Linked DNA regions of Homo sapiens. The protein of the gene in region 1 interacts with the protein of each later gene in a pairwise test. Each region holds a gene or a part of one and is shown on either strand. Other genes may lie near its edges. The genes, in order: GP2 and GLP1R.

The links.
Region 2: the proteins of GP2 (region 1) and GLP1R interact in a protein complementation assay, tested with the Homo sapiens proteins (one study listed by BioGRID).

Annotation. Positions count from the first base shown.
Region 1 is NC_000016.10:20,324,502-20,329,095, forward strand, and holds the start of GP2 (pancreatic secretory granule membrane major glycoprotein GP2 isoform 2 precursor), read right to left. Parts: upstream 3,013-4,594; 5' UTR 2,966-3,012; intron 1,967-2,965; 5' UTR 1,931-1,966; coding exon 1,837-1,930; intron 1-1,836. UniProt on the Homo sapiens protein: Functions as an intestinal M-cell transcytotic receptor specific for type-I-piliated bacteria that participates in the mucosal immune response toward these bacteria. At the apical membrane of M-cells it binds fimH, a protein of the bacteria type I pilus tip.
Region 2 is NC_000006.12:39,055,087-39,058,897, reverse strand, and holds part of GLP1R (glucagon-like peptide 1 receptor precursor), read right to left. Parts: intron 2,502-3,811; coding exon 2,405-2,501; intron 1,427-2,404; coding exon 1,319-1,426; intron 1-1,318.

The DNA.
Region 1 (4,594 bases):
AGAGTAACAAAGTTCTTTCCTGTGCATCATGCAAACAGCAGCCTTGTTTGACCAATATTTGTTTTTCTCATTATAAATGTAATACAGGCTCACTGAAAAAGAACCTCAAACATCATTAAAATTAATAAAGCAGAAATGAAAGTTGTCATAAGCCCATCTCATCCCCAGAAGTAACAATAAATTTGTAATATAGCCTTCTTCTTAGGCAAGTTTAAAATATATTGCTTTCTTAAAAATAAAAATAAGTTTAATTCTGTGCAACATCTTTTTTTCCACTTGCATTTTTTACTTAATATAACATAGACATTTTTCCATACCAGTAGCACAGTCTATTGCAAGAACTCCCAACCTTGGCACTATTGACATTTTGGCTAGGTCATTCTTCACTGGAGGAGCCATCCTGTGCATTATAGAATGTTTAGGAGTATCCTTGACCTCTACCTACCAGATCCCACCAGCATGCCCCAAAGTGGTCTCCAGGCATTGCCAAATGTCTTCTTGGGGGGCATCGCCCCCAGTTGAGAACCACTGATCTAACAAGACCATTTCTGATTGTTGATCTACCATTTTTAAAAACAGTTTTAGAAACTGTGATGTATGAAGAGGCAGAGAAGTGAAGGAGGAAGACCACAGGCTGGTCAGGCTGAGTTTAAATCCAATTCTACACCTGCTGGCTGGGTGACCTTGGCAGGTGACTTAAGTCCCCTGAGACTCATTGGCAAAACCACACCTGTGAACCAGTGGTTCTCAAACTTTATCCGTTCCTACGCTTTGGGTCATGACCTTTGTCATACATGTGTTTGCCTGTCCTATTATTGACTTAAAATGTTTCTTTCAATGATTATCTTTTAAGAATTAGTTTCATCTTAAAGAATAATATCTGTGATAACATAGATATCATGTGCTAGTTATATTTTTTAGATGTGCATAAAAAATAAACATACAGCCATTAAAAACTTGTTAAGAGTTTGCCAGGCACCCCCAGAACCATCTTGGAATATATACACCTCATTTGGGGAAAGAAAGCCTTAAACGATTGTTAGAGGATTAAATGTGATAATATGTGTAAAATGCCAAGCACAGCACCAGGGTCAAGCTAATTGTCTTCTCTAGTTCTATTTTGTTGAATGCTGTAGATGCCTGAAGAAGGAGCTAAGTGCACACACAGGATCATGTGCTTACAATACACATTAAAGGGGCTTTCTAAAAAAAAGAGATTTTCAAGCTTTGCACATGCTTATAATACACATTAGAAGGGCCTTTCAGAAAAAAAGATTTTCAAACTTTGCTCATGCATGTACTTATTTTAAGACAAGGAATCACTGCATTTGTTATTCTTAGATTGTATTTTTCCACTGGAGGCCTCCAATGAGCTCAGTACCCTCTCCCACCCTCCTCCAGGGGCTGAAATTTGCACTCTAATTCTAAGCCTGAGACTCCTTTCTGCAAGTATCTGAATTGCCCACTTCATAAAGAGATCACTTAATCTAGCCCTTTCAGGAAAAGGAGAAGGCACTTGCCAGCACAAGGTGACTGAGTTATGTATTTCTTGATCTTCTTTAATCTGGGGTCTCTAATCTCCCAAAGATATGGGCATGGGAAATTATGTTAACTGGCTCCCACTGCCCTTTCAGAGGAATTTCTGATTAGGCTCTTTGAGAGATTGTGACTTGATTTCCATTGTTTCTCATTATGTTTCCCTTGACTTCTAGCTCTGAGTTTTTGCTTTAGAACTGCCAATTCCTCTTCCTTACCTGAGCCACCTTCTCTGCACTTCTATCCTCACTTGCTAGGTCTTCCTTGACATCTGAGATGCCAGGTGAGCAGAATACTTACCTCGCTGCACTGCAGATGCCTGGGTCAGAATGCAGGAGACCAAGGCCAGCCACAGGAGGCCAGAGCCCACCATCCTTTCCATAAGGTGAGGCATGCAGGTCACTTTGCTGTATGCAGACTTCCCATGCAGCTATGGGAAAGAAAAGACCAAGATAAGATTAGGGCATAGGTCTATGTTCTTAGAAACAGATCCGTTGACTTCCTTCATAAAGAGCTGCATTGTTTCAAAGTAGGTGTGACTTATGGACAGATAGAGCGAGATAATGGGTGATAAAATTGACAGTAAGCAAACCAAAGGCAAGCTTAGAGCTGGCTAGTACTGCAGAATGTCCTAGAAAGGTCTCAGGATGGTCCCTGCTCAGGTGGAAGTAGAGGCTCTTTGGAGATTGGATAGAGAAAAAGGGATATGGTACCTGTGAATACCTGCACACAAAAGTAATGGCTGCCCTTTCTTAGTTTTATGCATTGGGTGCTGCTAAGAGCCCCCTGAAATGTCCTCTATGGATGTAGATTTCTGTGACTGTGGAACCATGCCAAACCGAGCCTCATGTTCCTTGCTCCTAGTACAGAATCTGGCACACAAGGAGTACTCAGTAGAGGATTAAGGATGAATAAATAAATCAATGGGGGTTGGGGGCGGTGGCGAGGCAGAAAGAAAGAGCTGCAAAAAAGCCTGCCAGCATTTGGATGGCATTTACTTTTCTGGGAAATACTTTCCCTAAATGGCCAAATCTTTGGATAACTTCCTACAACCTCTGGAAGACTTCAGTGGAAAATAGAGATCGGTTTCGGGCAGGGATACCATGAGTATGCTATGAGACAGCAGGGATAGGGAAGCACCCAGGATTGGTGATTCTTAGAGATGAGATCCCAATAGAGACCTAGTTCCCTGGTGGGAATATCTGGGACAAGGAAGAGGGTGGCGTCCGTAGGCCTGGAGCATCGCAGATGACTGGAAGCATGACTGAGTTGGACATAGAGTGGTACCTGGAGCACTTGACAATGGCCAGGGTCCAAACTACTTGCTGGGTTCTAAAAATTTCCAGAAACAAAGAATCCTAGCATGTCCAGTGGATCAAGATTTCCCAGGATTAGGAGGAAGCCTCCTGGGGCTTAAAGCAGGACTTACCTCCGATGAGAACACAAAGCGTTCCTCCTCTGGCCAGCCATGGGAATGCAGCCTGCTGTGGGCCGTCTTTTTATTGCAATTTCCCACCCATGTGTCTCTCCTCAATTGGTGCACAGGTATGATGGGAGTTCTAGGCCATACACTGGGCTTGTTGAGTGGAGGTGAGATAAGCCATTTACGCAAAGGATGGTGAAAGAAGGGCCCTCCCCTCACAATGTCAACCCTTCCAGCTGTCTCAGCATTGTGCGAATGCTTCCTACAAACAATAGTGCTGTGTGCTGAATGCTGAACATGCTGGGCACTGCTTTGCGTTCTTGACTTCTCACATTTAATCTTCATAATTAATCAATGAAACTGGTGCCATATTTATTACCAGAAACCAAACACGAATTGAAAGGAAGCTTAATACCCAAAGGGAAGTGAAGAGAAAATCAAACAGGCACTTGTTTGCACAATGGATTTTCAGTTGTACCTTGTGTTCCTAGCTAATCATCTTGGAACATTTCTGCTTCTGTCTGAAGGCCACTGAGCTTGGGGCCAGTTAGACTAAGAGGACACATAGGAAAGGAAAGAAGGGAGTGTGGATGTTTCGAAAAATTCCATTTATTGGTCCATAGAATCTACCCAACTCCGGATTTCTAATGCTGAGCAGTTTTGGAATGGCTAATTTGGTGATGATGGATTTTGGAATGGCAAAGGACAGACAAAGGTTCTTGGACAAAAGAAGCACCAGAGTAGCCCCTGTAAATCCCTTTTGATATGTAGGCTGCCCTAGAGATTGGAAGGCATGAGACTGAGAAGAGGCTGTAGAGGATCTTGGACTTATTAACTCCAGGCTTGGACCTGGCTTTCATGACATGGTAGAAATCATGGACTTCATAAAAGAGCCAAAGCTTTTGCAGAAAAAATGGCCACTGCTTCTTCTCTGTCACTCTGGGACTCCTTAAGGAGCCAAGGCAACTGGAGTCAAGGGAGCAGGAGGGTCTTGGCATTGGTAACACCTTCTACAAAACCTCAACCTGGAAAAAGAAAAGGTGCTACAAGCCACCTTCTCTACTCCCAGAGCAACTGGAGAATAAATAGTCTCTAAAATGTGGAACTTGTGACAACTGGGCCCACTAAATCACCTACTGATCCATTCAGTCTGGCCAGGTGCCCATCCCAGTCTCCCCAGTGGCCACTCTTAACCTTCCCATTCCTCTTAAATGGTCTCTGCAGCTATTATCACCCACTCACACCACCTTTCTCAGCAGATATCTGGTACCCTACTTCAAAAACAATTTAGGCCACAACACCTGACCTTGCTCCTTCCCCTGTAAACATATAAATACTGGTCTCCATCCTCCACCCCTTCCCCCTCCAACTTCTGATAAGGCGATGTTCCTCCTTTTCAAAGTCAGTTCCTCCATCCCTCTTCTGGCTTCTCCATTCCAATCTGAACCATGTAGCTACAACTTTATAGCCAAATCCACTGGGTAGTTTGTTTCTGCTCCTTTGTGATTGGATTTGCCTACTGCTTGTTCCGGGTACCTTGCATTTCCTTGACTCCGCATGTTCATATTTTCTTGATTCTCCTGTTTCTACCTGGAGATTTCTGCTCTGTTGCTACAAGATCCTGTCTCTAAGAAT
Region 2 (3,811 bases), on another chromosome or scaffold:
CCCCTTCAAGGTGTGATGATAGGAGCACGAATTGGATTCAAATCCTGGCTCTGCCATTGACCACATCATTTGGAACAAGTGACTTAAACTTTTTGTGCTTCAGTTTCCTCATCTGTACAGCAGGTATAACCACAGGGTAGTTATAAAGCCCTGCTTTTAGGGCAGGACTTGGCACACAGTAGGTACTCAATAAATGCTGGCTATGATGACGATGATGATGGTGATGGTGATGATGATGATGATGATGATGATGATAGGGAAATATCTTTTCTCCCCTTATGGAGACTGGGAGCTCCTTGCCATGAGGGTGCTTGTCTCCTGTTATCCTCCACGGTGCCTGGGTGAAACTGGGCTCAGCAAGGGAGGCTGGGATAGATAGCGGGGCACATTAACTAACCCTCCAGTCAGGGATCCTCTTGCAGCCTCTGCAAATCTCTGTACCCCCAATGAAATGACCTTCCCACCTACCCAGTCACATCTTCCCCAGTACAAGGTCCCCCTTGCAGGCAGGAGTGAGCTGAGGAGGGCTGAGTCTGGTGGGGTTCGTCACCCCACCAATGCCCTGATCACTTCTCCCAGTGAACCTCTAAAGAGTGAGGAAGTAGCTAAATGTCACTGCCAGGTATGGGCCACCTGCATACACATATCATACATACATGTATACACACAGCAGACACCCTGGGTAGCTTCCCTCCCCGCAAGAGTCTGTCCCCACCCAGCTCTTTTCCTGACTACTGAATTGGAAGGGGTCGCATTTCTCTTCAGACACTTACTTTCCCTTCCCCACACACTGGCCAGCACTGGCCTCACGCCCAGACCCAGGTGGTACCTCAGGCCATCATGAAACTTATCACTACTGACTGCTCCCCTCACCCCAGGAAAGGCAGGCGGACCACTCACTAGGAGGCCTAAAGACATTCTGGGTGGGGAGGGCTGTGTCTCAGAGGAAAGGAAGCAGCGCCTTGACCTCAGCCTCCTCGATACAGGGGACGGTGGGGGAGGGAGCTCACCACTGCTGACCCAGGGCAGGTACCAGGTCAGGGAGGGGGCTCACCACTGCTGACCCACGGCAGGTACCAGGTTAGGGAGGGGGCTCACCACTGCTGACCCACGGCAGGTACCAGGTTAGGGAGGGGGCTCACCACTGCTGGCCCAGGGCAGGTACCAGGTCAGGGAGGGGGCTCACCACTGCTGGCCCAGGGCAGGTATCAGGTCGGGGAGGGGGCTCACCACTGCTGGCCCAGGGCAGATACCAGGTCGGGGAGGGGGTTCACCACTGCTGGCCCAGGGCAGGTACCAGGTCGGGGAGGGGGCTCACCACTGCTGGCCCAGGGCAGGTACCAGGGGCAGCTGACATTCACGAACGAGCCTGGCTCCCCATCTGGCCAGCAGGCGTATTCATCGAAGGTCCGGTTGCAGAACAAGTCTGGGAGCAGAAAGAACAGTCTCTGAGTCCCTGCTTGTGACTGGCCATGGCCCTTTCCCTCCCTTCCCCAAGACCCCTCCCCTCCTCGGAGGCTGCATGCCACTAACCTCTGCTGAATGCTTACTGTATGCCAAGCACTTTCCCCACCCAGCAAGAGCCAAGCAGGGGCACTTGCCACTTATCAGTGGCAGGACCTTGAGCAAGTAACTTAATGTCTGTTTCCTGATCTGTAAAACAGGAGTATTTCCAGCCCCATAGGGTTTTGTGGGATCAAGACTATATGCTACATAGATAATGGAACATAGTACGTGCTCAATGAAAAATCCCTATGGGCCTATTCTTAAATTGCACTTCACAGATTAGAGGGAAATGTTAGCTTACCTTCCTTCTGATCTCACTTAAGATAACCTTCTTTAGGTCACGTGTTATAATTACAGTCAGGATTTCAACCTAGGCCCAGCGGGCTCCAATCCCGTGCTCTTTAAACCACCTTGTGAACTCCCTGAAACATTTATTCCTATAAATATGTTTGTGGAGCCCTCAGTCCATGCACAGGCTGGGAGGTGCTGAGGACAAAAATGGAAAGGCCGGGTGCCTGCTCTGAGAGGCTCTAGCTGGGGGGCTGGCCGGCGGTGCAGGGAAGGACACACAGATAAGACAGCTAAGACAGAAATAAGACAGCAACCCCAAAGCAGACTACAGCAAACGAGTAAGGGCCAAATGATGGCAGAAGTCCTGGGGAAGATTTTCTGGAGGAGGCAGTGCTTCCGCGGACTTTGAAGAAAAGGAAGATTTTGGTCGGCAGAAAGGAAGGTATCCAGGTGAAGGAGTAGCTTGGACAATGAGATGAAGGCAGAGGGCAGGGGTGGCATCCTATAGAGGCAAATGGCTCCCAGCCATGGACATTGAGTTCATCAAAGTCCTCCAGAAGTTGGTTGGGTGGGGAGCACTAAAGGTGGGGAGCCTACATGGACTCACCTGTGGCAGGAGGTGGATCCTCAGTCAGGGAGCGCTGGCACTGGCGTCGGTATTCTCGCCATTTCTGCACCGTCTCCCAGAGGGACACAGTGGCACCCTGGGGGGAGGGCATATATGGGAGGCCTGTGGGTTCAGCCAGCCCCTCTCCTGCCCCCTCACCCCCTAACACACTTGGTTTCTCAATCTCCATGAAACCTCAAAGCCCCAAATTCTGCCAGGCATCAGCCACCTCTGAAAGAGAGTGAGAATAAGTCACTGCCACCCAGGGGCCCCAGGTGGATGGTTTGACATCTTCATTCCTCCCAGGGTGCATAGCTTGATGTGTCACGAGCACCCAGCAAATGTCTGCTAAATTGATGCTTTTGGGGAGGTGGGTGGGTGAAGGAGGAAAGGAGCGTGTGTGTCTCATTTGTGATCTCTGATCTCACTTAGGAGAGAGACTTTCTGAGGGCCCAGGACTCTAAGCTCCTTCTGGCGCCTAGTCAGCCTGCCTGAGGGCTTCTTGCACTTTCAACCATTCTAGAAGAAGACACACAGGCCAGAGTGGGAGAGGAACTGAATCAAGGGTGCACAGCCCCCCCAGGAAGCAGAGTTAAGGCTAGAATCTGGAGTCCTTCAGATCAGTGACCATGGTAGAATATCGCAAGGTGTGCGGGGGCCGGGGAGAGTAGTGGCGTTCAGGGCTACAAAGAGCTGGGATGTCTGCCATTAGCATTCCTCCTCCAAAACGCACTCACTTACAGATGCACTCAACACAGCACCCCCCACCCCCTCCCCGTGCTCCCCTCTGACACAGCAACCAAATCTAATATTCAACCCAGCTTCTATCCACCCAAAGGAAGAGTCCTGAGGACATGAGGTGAAGGGGTCAGGGAGGTTCCAGAACACTGAAGTCACACGTGCAATGGGAGGGATCCCTCTCACCTGTGAGTAGGGAGAGCTGAGCCTCCACTTCCAGTGAGGTCACCGAAATGGCTTTTCAGCACACAGACCCAAACAGACCCATCCCACTGAGAATCCACCATTCCTTCTGAGTGTTTTTGTGCACTTCCTTCAGCTATGTCTTGGGGTTGTCGTTCTTTTTAGTTTTTTCCTGAACAGCCTTAAAAATTATAAATATTCGTCCTTCAGAGGCTGCAGATGCTGAAATGACCCAAGAGCCCCATGTATAAAATGTAGGACCCATACATAATTTAAAACAACATTTTGCTTTTTGAAATCACAAAAATGTCCACGTGTGCTGAAATTAAAATAGCTTCTTTTTAGAAGCTTGCCCCCTTGCCTTGTAGCGTGCTGGGCACATGCTGGATCCAGTCTCGGGTTCTAGCTGGCTTATCACACACCTCCCTGAGAGACTTGGGTTGCCTTGCTCACCCCTTGCTGCCTCGGAGGCCCCATGGAAGGGCC